4 linked regions of the Homo sapiens genome follow. The protein of the gene in region 3 purifies or fractionates together with the protein of the main gene of each other region. This does not show direct contact. Each region holds a gene or a part of one and is shown on either strand. Other genes may lie near its edges.

Region 1 (3,500 bases), about 56 Mb from region 3:
ACAAAATATGATATTATTAAAATAAAAGTGTGTTATATCAGATGGGGTTCAGGGAATATTTAAAAATTATTTTTAAGAAATACAGTGCAATTTTTAGTTTACATTTAGATGAAGCTTACTAGATTAAAAGTGAAGTAAACATGAAAACATGTCACACAAAAGAAGGGGAAGCAGTAAATATAACTTGTTTGAAGAACTGCGTCTACATAGAACAAGAGATCACAAAACTGGAGATAGGGTATATAAAGAACATTTGTTAAGTAAGTTACTCTTAATTAAGATCAGGTTTTGGACTACCAGCTGATAATTTTGAAGTATGTCAGCTAATGATTAAGACTATTCTTCTGCGCTGCCCCACACAAACATTTTTTAAGTGTTGGTCATTATGCAATCCAATTGCTTTTAAGATAGCATTTATGCTTCTCTCCTGCTGTTTTTTTTTTCCTATACATAACCAACAAGTTATTAAAAGAAAAACAGAAGCTTTATCTCATCCAAATGCAACTGGGAAAATATACTACTACATGATGCCTATAAATGTCATATGTGGTGAGCTCCTCCAGATTTATATTTCATGAAAATAATGGTTGATGTCATTGCCAGACATCTTGCAGTTACCAGGACTTTGTAATGCTGAACAAACAAATTAACATTATTTTTCTAAAAAGTACTACTGAATAAATCTGAAATTATTATCTAAGCATGAATACATATTCCTTTTAAACCAAAGCATATTTTGAAAAGCAGTAATGCAAAAAGATTTAAAACCTACTACACACTGTATAAAAACAGAATATTTAGGATACTTGTCCTTGAGATACACAATATTACATAATGAATAGTTTTTATGACACACATAGCTAAAAACAACTCATGTTTCTTCTCATTCATAGAAGAGTTATTTGGTTTGGCCGACAGATGTGGAATTTTGGTTCTACAAAAAAGAGTACTCCAGGATTCTGCAAAGAGCCAAAAATTACATGGGCAGATGACATACCATATACTACTAGCCTTTACAAACAGCTCTCTAGCAAGAAAGCCAACCTTAGTCTTGTGTCTCAATGTAATTCTCTTGTTTAAGTGTAAGGATTATAGTTATGCTAAATAGTGAGATGACAGTCAATTCTGTAACAAGTTCACTGCTTTCAAACAGATAAATATCATTGTAACTACAGGACCATCACAAATATCTTTCTAATAAGCCTACTCCAATTTGGTATTTGATCCTAAGTAGTATTTGCAAACATTATCTTTCCTTCTCATGGGGTGGAATTCCCATGCCCTTCCATATTTATAGAGAGAACTTTATTTATAATTGCAGTCAAAATTCCAGGTGTGGGAGAAATGTATGCTACTACTATTAAAGAGATGAGCAAATTTTATTTCATAAGATAATTTCCTCTACTTTTCTTAAAACCATTTCACAAAATTATTTATTCATCTGTTTATCTAAAACTTCGTGAGAATTTAAAAGGTAAGATTATGTTGAAGAAGCCACAACTAAACTATATATACATTTATAAGCAATGTATATATAAACTCTCTCTGTATCTATCTCTATCTCTATCTAGTAAAGAGGGGCTGGTCACAAAATTGAATACAAGTATCCATCAAATATTTCTCCATCATAAGTTGAGACAATAATTTTTATTGCAGGGTATCATGCCAAAATTATATTTTTAAAAGGATACTATGCTCAGGAACATCAGTTTTCTCAAAAATTCAAGCTATTCATTAATTCATTTACTTCACAAATATTTGAGTACATACTATATGCAAGGAAATGTGTCAAATACTGTCAAGTAAAATTATACAAAAGTTAGCTGGCCCTCTCCCCTAAAAGGCTTATGATCCACTGAGATCAGCACTCACATCCCTTTAAAATACTTTATCCCCTTGAGCTAGAAAATTTGAGTGAGGAAGTATTAGAAAATATTTGGGCATTCCTTAAGTGGTAATTACCTGATCTTGCAATGACATCACTGGATTATTTTTGGTAGTGTTGATATGAAGGACATGGTATTTATTCTTTGCACACAGGTCATAGGCGATATTGGTAAATGAAGTGCTTGCCGTTTTGGGAACTCTGTTATAAATGATCACCATGTCCTCTTCCTCATCTAAAGTGGCATCTTGCCGAGGGCCATCCATTGTATGTCGCTGCTCAATTTCTCGGACTTCGTGTCTTGCAATAGCCCTTTCTGGAAAGAAAAACAGATACGAACTAAGTTTTTAAGGACACTATAAGGAAGTTATGAACACTGAACTTTGGACCATGATTAGAAAAGATACAAAAAAGAAAACAAAAAACAAAAGCAAAGAACCAAGGGATATGGAAAACATGGGTAAATTGCTTGGGTTTCTAAGAGGATCTAGTTGATTCTAAAACAGCTGTACAGCCTGGAACATAATCTTCCTATTCAAGAACTAGGTAAGAGCTGTTGAAGAAATGTTTTGAGGACCAAAGCTTCAGAATTCCTTATGAAGGATAATACATATGTATATCAAGAACAAAAAGGAATAAAGAGTCAACAAATGCAGAATAGCACAGACCACAGAGTACTTCAGTGCAGTTCAAAAGTCACTTTACATTCTAATAGAATTCCTACAGCCTGAACTAATTCTCAAACACACAAAGATTGCATGGAATACTAAACTTCACAGTATAAAAATGCACTTAAAAGAGAAATTACTTATAATTTAAGAAAAGGTTTTGAAATTTATTACCCGATTTAGTTATTCTCTGGTTTATAAAAATGTAGCAGGACAGTGATTATAAAGTGATTATAAATTATAAATTAAAAAACTGTAACAGGACAGTGATTATAAAGTGATTATAAATGCTAATATGACTTAACAAGAGTAGAAACAATATGACTTAGAAGGGTAGAAACAATACTACCATAAATCCTTTTTCTTTTTGGTGTTGCATTAGAAACTATGTTTAGCACATGGCTATGCTTTTCACTTAAATTTCATGGTTCCTCTAAAATTACCTATCTGCTATGTGGTTTCAAAAGCAGTTACATTTTGCTTTCTAGTATTCTCTATTTAATGCAAACTTCAGCTTCAAATATATATATTCAAATATCTATACATTCTAATATACATTCAAATATATATTTTTTCTTTTATAAATATATATGAATAAGGATGCAAGAAAAGGAGAGGAAAGAAGGAAATGAGGAGCGTGAAATCTCTAGCAAGATTGCAAATACTTTGCACGGGGATAGTTACACATATAGCACGTACTCTCTTAACCCCCAAGTCTTTGTGCAAGCTATCTCACCTATCTTGAACAATCTTCCATTTCCCCACCCAACCTTTACATTTCAACTCAATTGCTTCCCAGGGAAGCATCTGATAGCTCTGACTAGGTCAAATCATCTTTTTTTTTTTTTTTTTCGGAGACAGAGTCTCGCTTTGTCACCCAGGCTGGAGTACAGTGGTTCGAACTTGGCTCACTGCAACCTCTGCCTCCTGGGTTCAAGCAATTCTCT
Region 2 (3,500 bases), on a different chromosome or scaffold from region 3:
GAAGAATGCCCTGTATAAAGAAATATGTTTTATTTTATTTATTTATTTGTTTATTTTATTATTATACTTTAAGTTCTAGGGTACATGTGCACAATGTGCAGCTTTGTTACATATGTATACATGCACCATGTTGGTGTGCTGCACCCATTAACTCGTCATTTACACTAGGTATGTCTCCCAGTGCTATCCCTCCCCCCTCCCCCTACCCCACAACAGGCCCTGGTGTGTGATGTTCCCTTCCTGTGTCCAAGTGTTCTCATTGTTCAATTCCCACCTATGAGTGAGAACAAGTGGTGTTTGGTTTTTTGTCCTTGCGATAGTTTGCTCAGAATGATGGTTTCCAGCTTCATCCATGTCCCTGCAAAGGACATGAACTCATCATTTTTTATGGCTGCATAGTATTCCATGGTGTATATGTGTCACATTTTCTTAATCCAGTCTATCATTGATGGACATTTGGGTTGGTTCCAAGTCTTTGCTATTGTGAATAGTGCTGCAGTAAACATACGTGTGCATGTGTCTTTATAGCAGCATGATTTATAGTCCTTTGGGTATATACCCAGTAACGGGATGGCCGGGTCAAATGGTATTTCTAGCTCTAGATCCTTGAGAAATCGCCCCACTCTCTTCCACAATGGATGAACTAGTTTACAGTTCCACCAACAGTGTAGAAGCGTTCCTATTTCTCCACATCCTCTCCAGCACCTGTTTTTTCATGACTTTTTAATGATCGCCATTCTAACTGGAGTGAAATGGTACCTCATTGTGGTTTTGATTTGCATTTCTCTGATGGCCAGTGATGATGAGCATTTTTTCATGTGTCTTTTGGCTGCATAAATGTCTTCTTTTGAGAAGTGTCTGTTTATGTCCTTCGCCCACGTGTTGATGGGGTTGTTTTTTTCTTGTAAATTTGTTGGAGTTCATTGTAGATTCTGGATATTAGCCCTTTGTCAGATGAGTAGATTGCAAACATTTTCTCCCATTCTGTAGGTTGCCTGTTCACTCTGATGGTAGTTTCTTTTGCTGTGCAGAAGCTAGTTTAATTAGATCCCATTTGTCAATTTTGGCTTTTGTTGCCATTGCTTTTGGTGTTTTAGACATGAAGTCCTTGCCCATGCCTATGTCCGGAATGGTATTGCCTAGGTTTTCTTCTAGGGTTTTTATGGTTTTAGGTCTAACGTTTAAGTCTTTAATCCATCTTGAATTAATTTTTGTATAAGGTGTAAGGAAGGGATCCAGTTTCAGCTTTCTACATATGGCTAGCCAGTTTTCCCAGCACCACTTATTAAATAGGGAATCCTTTCCCCATTGCTTGTTTTTCTCAGGTTTGTCAAAGATTAGATGGTTGTAGATGTGTAGATGTGTAGGGCTCTGTTCTGTTCCATTGGTCTATATCTCTGTTTTGGTACCAGTACCATGCTGTTTTGGTTACTACAGCCTTGTAGTGTAGTTTGAAGTCAGGTAGCGTGATGCCTCCAGCTTTGTTCTTTTAGCTTAGGATTGTCTTCGAAATGTGGGCGCTTTTTTGGTTCCACGTGAACTTTAGTTTTTTCCAATTCTGTGAATAAGGTCATTGGTAGCTTGATGGGGATGGCATTGAATCTATAAATTACCTTGGGCAGTATGGCCATTTTCATGATATTGATTCTTCCTACCCATGAGCATGGAATGTTCTTCCAATTATTTGTGTCCTCTTTTACTTCGTTGAGCAGTGGTTTGTAATTCTCCTTGAAGAGGTCCTTCACATCCCTTGTAAGTTGGATTCCTAGGTATTTTATTCTCTTTGAAGCAATTGTGAATGGGGAGTTCACTCATGATTTGGCTGTTTGTCTGTTATTGGTGTATAAGAATGCTTGTGATTTTTGCACATTGATTTTGTATCCTGAGACTTTGCTGAAGTAGCTTATCAGCTTACGGAGATTTTGGGCTGAGACGATGGGGTTTTCTGGATATACTATCATGTCATCTGCAAACAGAGACAATTTGACTTCCTCTTTTCCTAATTGAATACCCTTTATTTCCTTCTCCTGCCTGATTGCCCTGGCCAGAACTTCCAACACTATGTTGAATAGGAGTGGTGAGAGAGGGCATCCTTGTCTTGTGCCAGTTTTCAAAGTGAATGCTTCCAGTTTTTGCCCATTCAGTATCATACTGGCTGTGGGTTTGCCATAAATAGCTCTTATTATTTTGAGATATGTCCCATCAATACCTAATTTATTGAGAGTTTTTAGCACAAAGGGCTGTAGAATTTTGTCAAAGACCTTTTCTGCATCTATTGAGATAATCATGTGGTTTTTGTCTTTGGTTCTGTTTATATGCTGGATTATATTTATTGATTTGCACATGTTGAACCAGCCTTGCATCCCAGGGATGAAGCCCACTTGATCATGGTAGATAAGCTTTTTGATGTGCTGCTGGATTCGGTTTGCCAGTATTTTATTGAGGATTTTTGCATTGATGTTCATCAGGGATATTGGTCTAAAATTCTCTTTTTTTGTTGTGTCTCTGCCAGGCTTTGGTATCAGGATGATGCTGGCCTCGTAAAATGAGTTAGGGAGGGTTCCCTCTTTTTCCGTTGATTGGAATAGTTTCAGAAGGAATGGTACCAGCTCCTCCTTGTACCTCTGGTAGAATTCAGCTTTGAATCCATCTGGTCCTGGACTTTTTTTGGTTGGTAGGCTATTAATTATTGCCTCAATTTCCAAGCCTGTTATTGGTCTATTCAGAGATTCAACTTCTTCCTGGTTTAGTCTTGGGAGGGTGTATGTGTCCAGGAATTTATCCATTTCTTCTAGATTTTTTAGTTTATTTGCGTAGAGGTGTTTTTAGTATTCTCTGATGGTAGTTTGTATTTCTGTGGGATCGGTGGTGATATCCCCTTTATCATTTTTTATTGCGTCTGTTTGATTCTTCTGTCTTGTCTTCTTTATTAGTCTTGCTAGTGGTCTATCAATTTTGTTGATCTTTTCAAAAAACCAGCTCCTGGATTCATTGATTTTTTGAAGGGTTTTTTGTGTCTCTATGTCCTTCAGTTCTGCTCTGATCTTAGTTATTTCTTGCCTTCTGCTAGCTTTTGAATGTGTTTGCTCTTGCTTCTCTAGTTCTTTTAATTGTGATGTTAGGGTGTCAGTTTTAGATCTTTCCTGCTTTCTCTTGTGGGCATTTAGTGCTATAAATTTCCCTCTACACACTGCTTTAAATGTGTCCCAGAGATTCTGGTATGCTGTGTCTTTGTTCCCATTGGTTTCAAAGAACATCTTCATTTCTGCCTTCATTTCATTATGTACCCAGTAGTCATTCAGGAGTAGGTTGTTCAGTTTCCATGCAGTTGAGCGGTTTTGAGTGAGTTTCTCAATCCTGAGTTCTAGTTTGACAGCACTGTGGTCTGAGAGACAGTTTGTTACAACTACTGTTCTTTTACATTTACTGAGGATTGCTTTATTCCAACTGTGTGGTCAGTTTTGCAATAAGTGTGATGTGGTGCTGAGAAGAATGTATAT
Region 3 (3,500 bases):
CCACTTAATTTTTCCCCGCGGGACTTCTGCCATCAGCGAGGCTTTATGTTTTGTCGGCCTCCGCTTTCCAGCGGGGCAGGAATTTTTGCGTTTTGTTCATTGTGGTATTCCTAGAAATTCGAACAGTGTCTGTCACACAGCAGGAGCTTACAGGCTATCTGTTGAAGGAATATGAAGTGTTTGGCATAGTACCAGTCACATGTTAAGACCTCAGAAAACAGCAAGTGCAGAATAAACACCAGTTGGATAAACGGAATGATTTTCGGCTCTGAGGCTATACCAGCACTAGACAGCAGGTGGCGGTCTAACCCTTTCCCTCTCCAGGGTCCTCTGCCCCAGTTGCGGTCAGCCCTTCCCCTGGCCTGGCTGAAATCATTCAGGGGCTGGTGATGACACACTATGCCACACCTGAAAAGGAGACTCACCCTCCTGGGAGCCCAGTCCACAGCCCAGCCTTTAAAGAAACAGGCCCCACATCCAGATACCTCTGGTAAACTTTATCTTCCCCCAAACAGCCCCTACTCCTCACCCAGGGATTTAAGAGCCTGGAGAGCAACAGACATAGGCCTTGCCTTCCTGGAGCTTACACAAGCAGGAAAAACACTAAACAAATCATGACTCACATCGTGACAAGCGCTAAGAAGGACACGTACCCACTGCCAGAAAAGTGCTAATGCAGCCTAGGTTTGATTGAGGGTGGCATGTCAGGGAAGCCCTCCTTGAAGAAGTGACTTTTAAGCTGAGAGCAGGCCAGGTGCAGTGGCTCACACCTGTAATACCAGCATTTTGGGAGGCCAAGGCAGGAGGATCGCTTGAGCACAGGAGTTAGAGAATAGCCTGGGCAGCATAGCGAGACCGTATCTTTTAAAAAGAAGGGTTTTCTTCTTTTCTTCTTTTTTTGTTTTTTTTTTTTTGAGACAGGGTCTTGCCCTGTCACCCAGGCTGGAGTGCAGTGGCGCAATCTCAGCTCACTACAACCTCTGCCTCCTGGGCTCAAGCCATCCTCCCACCTCAGCCTCCTGAGTAGCTGGGACTACAAGCACACGCCACCATGCCTGGTTAATTTTTGTATTTTTTGTAGAGACGGAGTTTCACCACGTTGCCCAGACTGGTCTCAAACTCCTGGGCTCAAGCAATCTGCCCACCTCAGCCTCCCAAAGTGCTGGGATTACAGGCGTGAGCCACTGCACCTGGCCTTTTAAAAAGAAATATTTTAAAATAAAATAATAAGCTGAGAGCAGAGGGATGAGGAGACACTGCCAGACCAAAGGGAGGAAAGAAAGTTCTAGACAGGTGGCTCTGGGGTGGGTAGGGGCTGGGCATTTGAGGAATTTAAGAAGGCCCTCGTGGCCAAAGCTTGGTGAGCAGACAGTCAGCGGTGAGTATGAGGTCAGACAGGCTGGCAAGGCCAGACCACATAGGCACCAGCAGTCAGGAACAGGACACTGGTTTTCATCCTAAGAGCGGTGGGCACCCACTCGAGGGGCTGGAGCCAAGGGTCAGGAATTGAAAGATGAGCTTTGAAAAGAGCAGGCTGGCAGGGGCCCCTTGCTCCTCAGAGACCTCTGCTTTTCTTTCTGGACTGGTCACAAGGCACACAGCACACCCTGCTGGCGGGCATCTGCCTCCCCTCTTACTCTCCCCCAAACTAGAAATGCTCCTCGCCTATCTCTCGTTCACACAGATGCTAAACAAAATGCTTTGGAAACGAAACTATTCCTCATGGTCTAAATTGAAACAGTCCACCTGTCCAGCAACTTCTGGTTACATCTTGCAGCTGCCACCCCAAGACCTGCCTCCTATCCATGGCTGTCCTTGGTGGGTGAGAGGATAAGAAAAGCCTGAAAAATGTTTTAGAGGCCATAAAGCAGTGGTCCCAAACCTTTCTGGTACCAGGAGCCAATTTCAGGGAAGACACTTTTTCCACAGATGGCAGCAGGGGTGCTGGCAGGGGGCAGATATGGTTTTGGGATGAAACTGTTCCACCTCTGATCATCAGGAATTAGATTCTCATAAGAAGCACGCAACTTGGATCCCTCGCATGCACAGTTCACAATAGGGTTCGCACTCCTATGAGAATCTAATGCTGCCACTGATCTGACAGGAGGCGGAGCTCAGGCGGTAATGCTTGTTCACCTGCTGTTCACGTCCTGCTGTGTGGCCCAGTTCTTAACAGGCCATGGATAGATACTAGTCCATGGCCCAGGGGTTGGGGACCCCTGCTATAAAGAACATTCTGGGTATCAGTTAGAGCAGCTTATTAGTCCCATTTTACAGACGTGGAAATTGAGACCAGAGGGACTAAGAGACTTACCAGAGGTCACACAGCAAGTTGATAACAGCACTGAGATTCAAGTAGTATTAGTGGCAGCTACCATTTACGAAGGGTTACTCAGTCCCAGGCACTGTGATAAGCACTTTATCTACATTAAGCTTCACTGATGCTATGAATTGTGTGGTAACTTTCCATTTTCAAATGGGAAAACTGAGACAGAGAAGTGGCATGACCAAGGTCACACAGCAAGTAAGCTGAGGAGCTGGGATGCAAATTCAGATCTGTGTGCACCAAGGGCCAGGCTCTGCCTACAGGACTACACTAGTTCCAGCTCGCTAATTCACTGATGGTCATCTTATTTAATTTAAATACATCCCAGTGATGAAAAAACAAACAAACAAACAACAAAAAACCCAATACCAGAAAACCAAGGGAGGCCAGTGGGTACTGATCTCAGGAGCCAGGTGCCCAGGTGCCCTGTCAGGTCCTGATGCTGGCTTGTTACCATTTAATTTCAATTTGAGACATCTGAGACACAAGAAAGCTGTTCCGCTTTCAGAGAGCTTGGCCTTTCAGTTCGCTCTGGTTCTTAAACATCAAAATCCAGGTGTTCCTAATGCCTGAAATCTCAGGATTTCCAAGGGCCTGATCAGCAGCCAGAGAGACCAGGTCAAAGAGAAAAACACACACTGCTTCCAGAGCATCCTTGGAAATGTTTGTCCACCTTGCTCCATTCACCCCACCCCAGAATGGCTCCTACAAGAACCTCTTCCATTTGACCAAAATGTCATTTTATATATATTTAAATCTCTTCCTACAGAAATGCCAGACCATTGGAGTAAGGGCAGATGTGTGCACATATATACAAACACATGGAAATTCATTGTGGCACTGATCATAATAGGAAAATAATAGGGGGAAAAATTTTTGAGACAGGATCTCGTTCTGTCACCCAAGCTAGAGTGCAGTGGTACCATCTCGGCTCACTGCAACCTCCACCTCCGGGGCTCAAGCAATCCTCCTACCTCAGCCTCCGGAGTAGCTGGGACCACAGGCACCAGCCACAATGCCCAGCTAATTTTTCTTTTTGGTTTCTTGGTTTTTGTTTCAAGAAAGGATTTGGCTCTGTCACCCAGGCTGGAGTGCAGTGGTGTGATCTCAGCTCACTGAAGCCTCAACCTCCTGGGCTCAAGCGATCCTCCTACCTCAGCCTCCCAAGTAGCTG
Region 4 (3,500 bases), on a different chromosome or scaffold from region 3:
GCATTTGGGGGAAGATATAAAAGAAATAGGAGCGTGGATCTTACCATTAAAGAACTTTCTGCCAAGTGGGGAGAAAAAAATTCTTGCACATGAAATTACTGATGAACATTTGGGAAATAATATCAACCAGTAAAAATGCCTTCTGTGCCAGATGAGCACTGACAACTTGTCACCATGCGTAACATCTCCTGGATGTTTCAGCGTGAGCATTTGTTCCACAGGGGTGGTGCTTGTCTCCCCTTCAGTCAAGCACAGTGTTTTGAGAAGGAAGGAGATGAAATAAAGAGATAAAGAAAAGAAAGCTGCCATAAAATGAAAGAGGTTTGATTTAGTGAAAATCCAATGACCTCCCAAAGAGTGGGGCATGATAGTATATCAAATTCGACACCGTGGATAAGATCAGGGCTTCTCAGTACATCAGTGTTTTATTCCTCTCTTTCATTGGTTTAAGATGGACAAATCCCCGCCCCTTAAAAATAATTTTTAAAAAGGGAAGTGTTAGAATTCTTTCGCTTTTGAGTTTTTAAACATATATGCAAAATCAAGCAAAAGAAGAGTCTTGCTTTTATGAGGTCGGTCAGATAACAGCCCAGGGGACTGTAAAACTCAGAGTGAGACTAAGAGCTACCGCAACACTGAAAATCCTGGAGCACCTTGGGGATTCTCAGCAGATCTTAGTTGACAATTAACTGGTGGACTCTAAGTGAATCTTGTTAGCGAAGTGTTGGCCTTGTCTAAATTCTTAACTCCTGTGGCTTTGCATAACAACTTGGTGTTTCTTTTCTGAGGCTTTGATGTTTATATAACACTCTCAACTTATTTTGAAAACATTTACATAGTGATTAGTTAACCCAACAGACCAATCCTGGGAAGACAGCCAGAGCCTGCAGCACCTTAGTAACAGAAAAACTGATAATTAGGAGAAGAGACCTGTCCAAGACCAGGAACCTGGACCAAAATTGTGCCATGTTGCTTTACTTTAATGAGTGGCCCCAGTAAAAACTGAGCTGTATGGCAGAGCTGTTCACATTTATCTTCTGTGTCCACCCAGTTCTGCTGAAACCCCTGGCAAGATCGTGGCCCTGTTGTAGCTTGTCATGTTTTGAACAGCTGTCTATGGAAAGAAAGCAAACACAACCTAGAGCAACATTGATTTGTTTTAGAAAGCTCTTTTATTTTCAGTTCTGGCTGTGTTCAACATCTTAGCTTACGTTTTTCATGTTGTAATGATCTGCCGTATGGACGATCACCTCTAAGTTAGAGAGTTCTGTAATTTGGCTTGGATTAAAGATGCTTGGTTAGTGAAAGCTGCTGCTTTTTTTATAGTCAAAGGACTGGTTCTGAGAGCCTTGTTGCAGATGGCTGAGGTCACCGTCCCAAGGGTGTATGTCGTGTTTGGCATCCATTGCATCATGGCGAAGGCATCTTCAGATGTGCAGGTTTCAGGCTTTCATCGGAAAATCCAGCACGTTAAAAATGAACTGTCATGCAAGGAAAAAAAAAAAACCACAGATTTCATTAGTAAAATACGAGCTACCTGGAATTTTATGATGTATATTTTTAACAAAAATGACTCAGTTATTGACGTCTCCAAGTTTTTACTGATCCTAAGGACAGTGGCAAAATGGAAAGCCTGGAGTATGGGTAGGTGAGAGAGACGGAACACAGGTTAACCAGGCATAAAGAGATGAGATGCTTTAGTGAGTGGAGGTTCCCTGAGATGCTGTATGATTCATATAAACCAGTCAGTGGCTCCTTTAAACCTCACTGTCTGAAAGGTTGAAATAGTGTCTTCCCCTTTCTCTAGGCAACTAAGCATTACCTAAAACTCGCTGGGACTAAAGCAAGCTTCTGGGAATATTCTTCCCGTCACACCTCATGTAATTGCACCAGTGAAGTTAATTGAGTTGCTTTTTGAGGAACTCGTGTAAAAGGCATTTAGTTTCATGTAAAACAGGGAGGTGGTTTTGTAGCAGACGTCGTGTTCATTTAGTGCCTCTTGCTGCAGCCCTCCAGTCTAGCTATGATGGGGGCCATCTAAGCTGAATGAAGTAGAACGAATCAGCTTGGCCACGCTGACCGATTGCACCATCGGGGCAGGTTGTCTAAAGCTTGCCAGCTAGCATGGAAGCTCTGACCATGCAGTCTGCTGGCGCTAACAATTAGTTCACTTGAATAGTCTTGCTGTCAAAGTGGCTTTTCACCTTCTTAAAATCCTGGGCTAGAAGAGCTGGGAGAGAACCACCTTCAGCCTTGAGTTTGGCAGTCTGGCTGTCCGCCTGAGAACCAGGCAAGAGAGGAGGGTGTCTTCTACTGTACGTGACCCTCTCATTCTGGTAATTTTGCTCCCAGTGTGATCTGAGCTTATGTATATGCCCCTGATGTGAGTGCATGCAGGAGTGTCACTGGCCAGGGCTGGTCCTACAGAGACTGGGGGTCTTGCTGTGGGGTGCATCAGAAACTGGGTGTTCCCGAGCATTCCCTAGAGACTGGTGGGGTACAGAGAACGGGAATGTGCCAGGTGGTGACCACGGTAGGACTGGAGAGGCTGCCACAACCTGTCCTTGTCTCTGTCTTACACACAGGTGAGCACTGTGGGCTATGGGATGGATGAGGTGGAGCAGGACCAGCATGAGGCCCGACTCAAGGAGCTGTTTGACAGTTTTGACACGACGGGCACAGGGTCCCTGGGGCAGGAGGAACTCACCGACCTTTGCCACATGTTGAGCTTGGAGGAGGTGGCCCCAGTGCTGCAGCAGACATTACTTCAGGACAACCTCTTGGGCAGGGTAAGGTCTGGGGAAGAACGTGGCTATGGGAAGTGGGGTGCGGTTTCTGCCGGGGTGCTGGGGGTGGGGCGGACCACACATGTTGCAACTTGTTTCTAGCATCCTGGCTGTTACATGATAAAAAGAAGAATGTAATGGGTGTGACATCACAGTCCAGTTTGCTAGGGTGACAAGAGCCTGCTTTAATTTGTGCTCTGGAATTATGGTGTACAGTGAGCATCTTAGATAAAGAGGCAATGAAAGGATGTTTTCCAACTTTTTTCTTGTTCTTTGTGGTTTATTTTATTGACTCCACATTCATCACTGGGACAGAAAGGAGGAGGGTGAGATTTCCATTGAAGAGAAAGAAAATGCAGTAAGAAAGCTATTGTTATGACTTTTACTCCCAGTGAAGCTATTTCTTGTGTGGATTATTTCTGGGTGAAGTATTAATTAAACTTTCTACCCAGGAAATAAGACAGCAGGGTAAATAAATACAGTGCAGGTTCATTTAAAACCCAGCACGGCTTGCTTCCAGCAGGGATGTGTGTGTGCACGCCAATGTTAACCTCTGTGTTTGATGACAAATAGTCATGTTATTACCATAGATCAAGTCACAGATGTGAGTAAGAAGTGAGAGAGGGTCTTTTTTTCCTCTTGCCAATGGTGGATATTTGATCTGCCATGACCTGAGATTGCCTTCAATTCTCCTCATTATAATTAATAGCTTTT

The links. Proteins that work in one complex are often made in the same cells at the same time.
Region 1: the proteins of SERINC2 (region 3) and HS2ST1 purify together in Homo sapiens (affinity purification with mass spectrometry; one large-scale study listed by BioGRID and IntAct). This does not show direct contact.
Region 2: the proteins of SERINC2 (region 3) and RABL3 purify together in Homo sapiens (affinity purification with mass spectrometry; one large-scale study listed by BioGRID and IntAct). This does not show direct contact.
Region 4: the proteins of SERINC2 (region 3) and NIN purify together in Homo sapiens (affinity purification with mass spectrometry; one large-scale study listed by BioGRID and IntAct). This does not show direct contact.

What each region holds. Positions count from the first base shown.
Region 1 is NC_000001.11:87,071,635-87,075,134, reverse strand, and holds part of HS2ST1 (heparan sulfate 2-O-sulfotransferase 1), read right to left. Parts: intron 2,202-3,500; coding exon 1,963-2,201; intron 1-1,962. UniProt on the Homo sapiens protein: Catalyzes the transfer of a sulfo group from 3'-phospho-5'-adenylyl sulfate (PAPS) to the 2-OH position of iduronic acid (IdoA) or glucuronic acid (GlcA) within the heparan sulfate (HS) chain and participates in HS biosynthesis.
Region 2 is NC_000003.12:120,732,517-120,736,016, forward strand, and holds part of RABL3 (rab-like protein 3), read right to left. Parts: intron 1-3,500. UniProt on the Homo sapiens protein: Required for KRAS signaling regulation and modulation of cell proliferation. Regulator of KRAS prenylation, and probably prenylation of other small GTPases. Required for lymphocyte development and function. Not required for myeloid cell development.
Region 3 is NC_000001.11:31,419,713-31,423,212, reverse strand, and holds part of SERINC2 (serine incorporator 2), read right to left. Parts: intron 1-3,500. UniProt on the Homo sapiens protein: Non-ATP-dependent, non-specific lipid transporter for phosphatidylserine, phosphatidylcholine, and phosphatidylethanolamine. Functions as a scramblase that flips lipids in both directions across the membrane.
Region 4 is NC_000014.9:50,821,163-50,824,662, reverse strand, and holds part of NIN (ninein), read left to right. Parts: intron 1-1,153; exon of another isoform or gene 1,154-1,481; intron 1,482-2,585; 5' UTR 2,586-2,606; coding exon 2,607-2,789; exon of another isoform or gene 2,790-2,866; intron 2,867-3,500. UniProt on the Homo sapiens protein: Centrosomal protein required in the positioning and anchorage of the microtubule minus-end in epithelial cells. May also act as a centrosome maturation factor.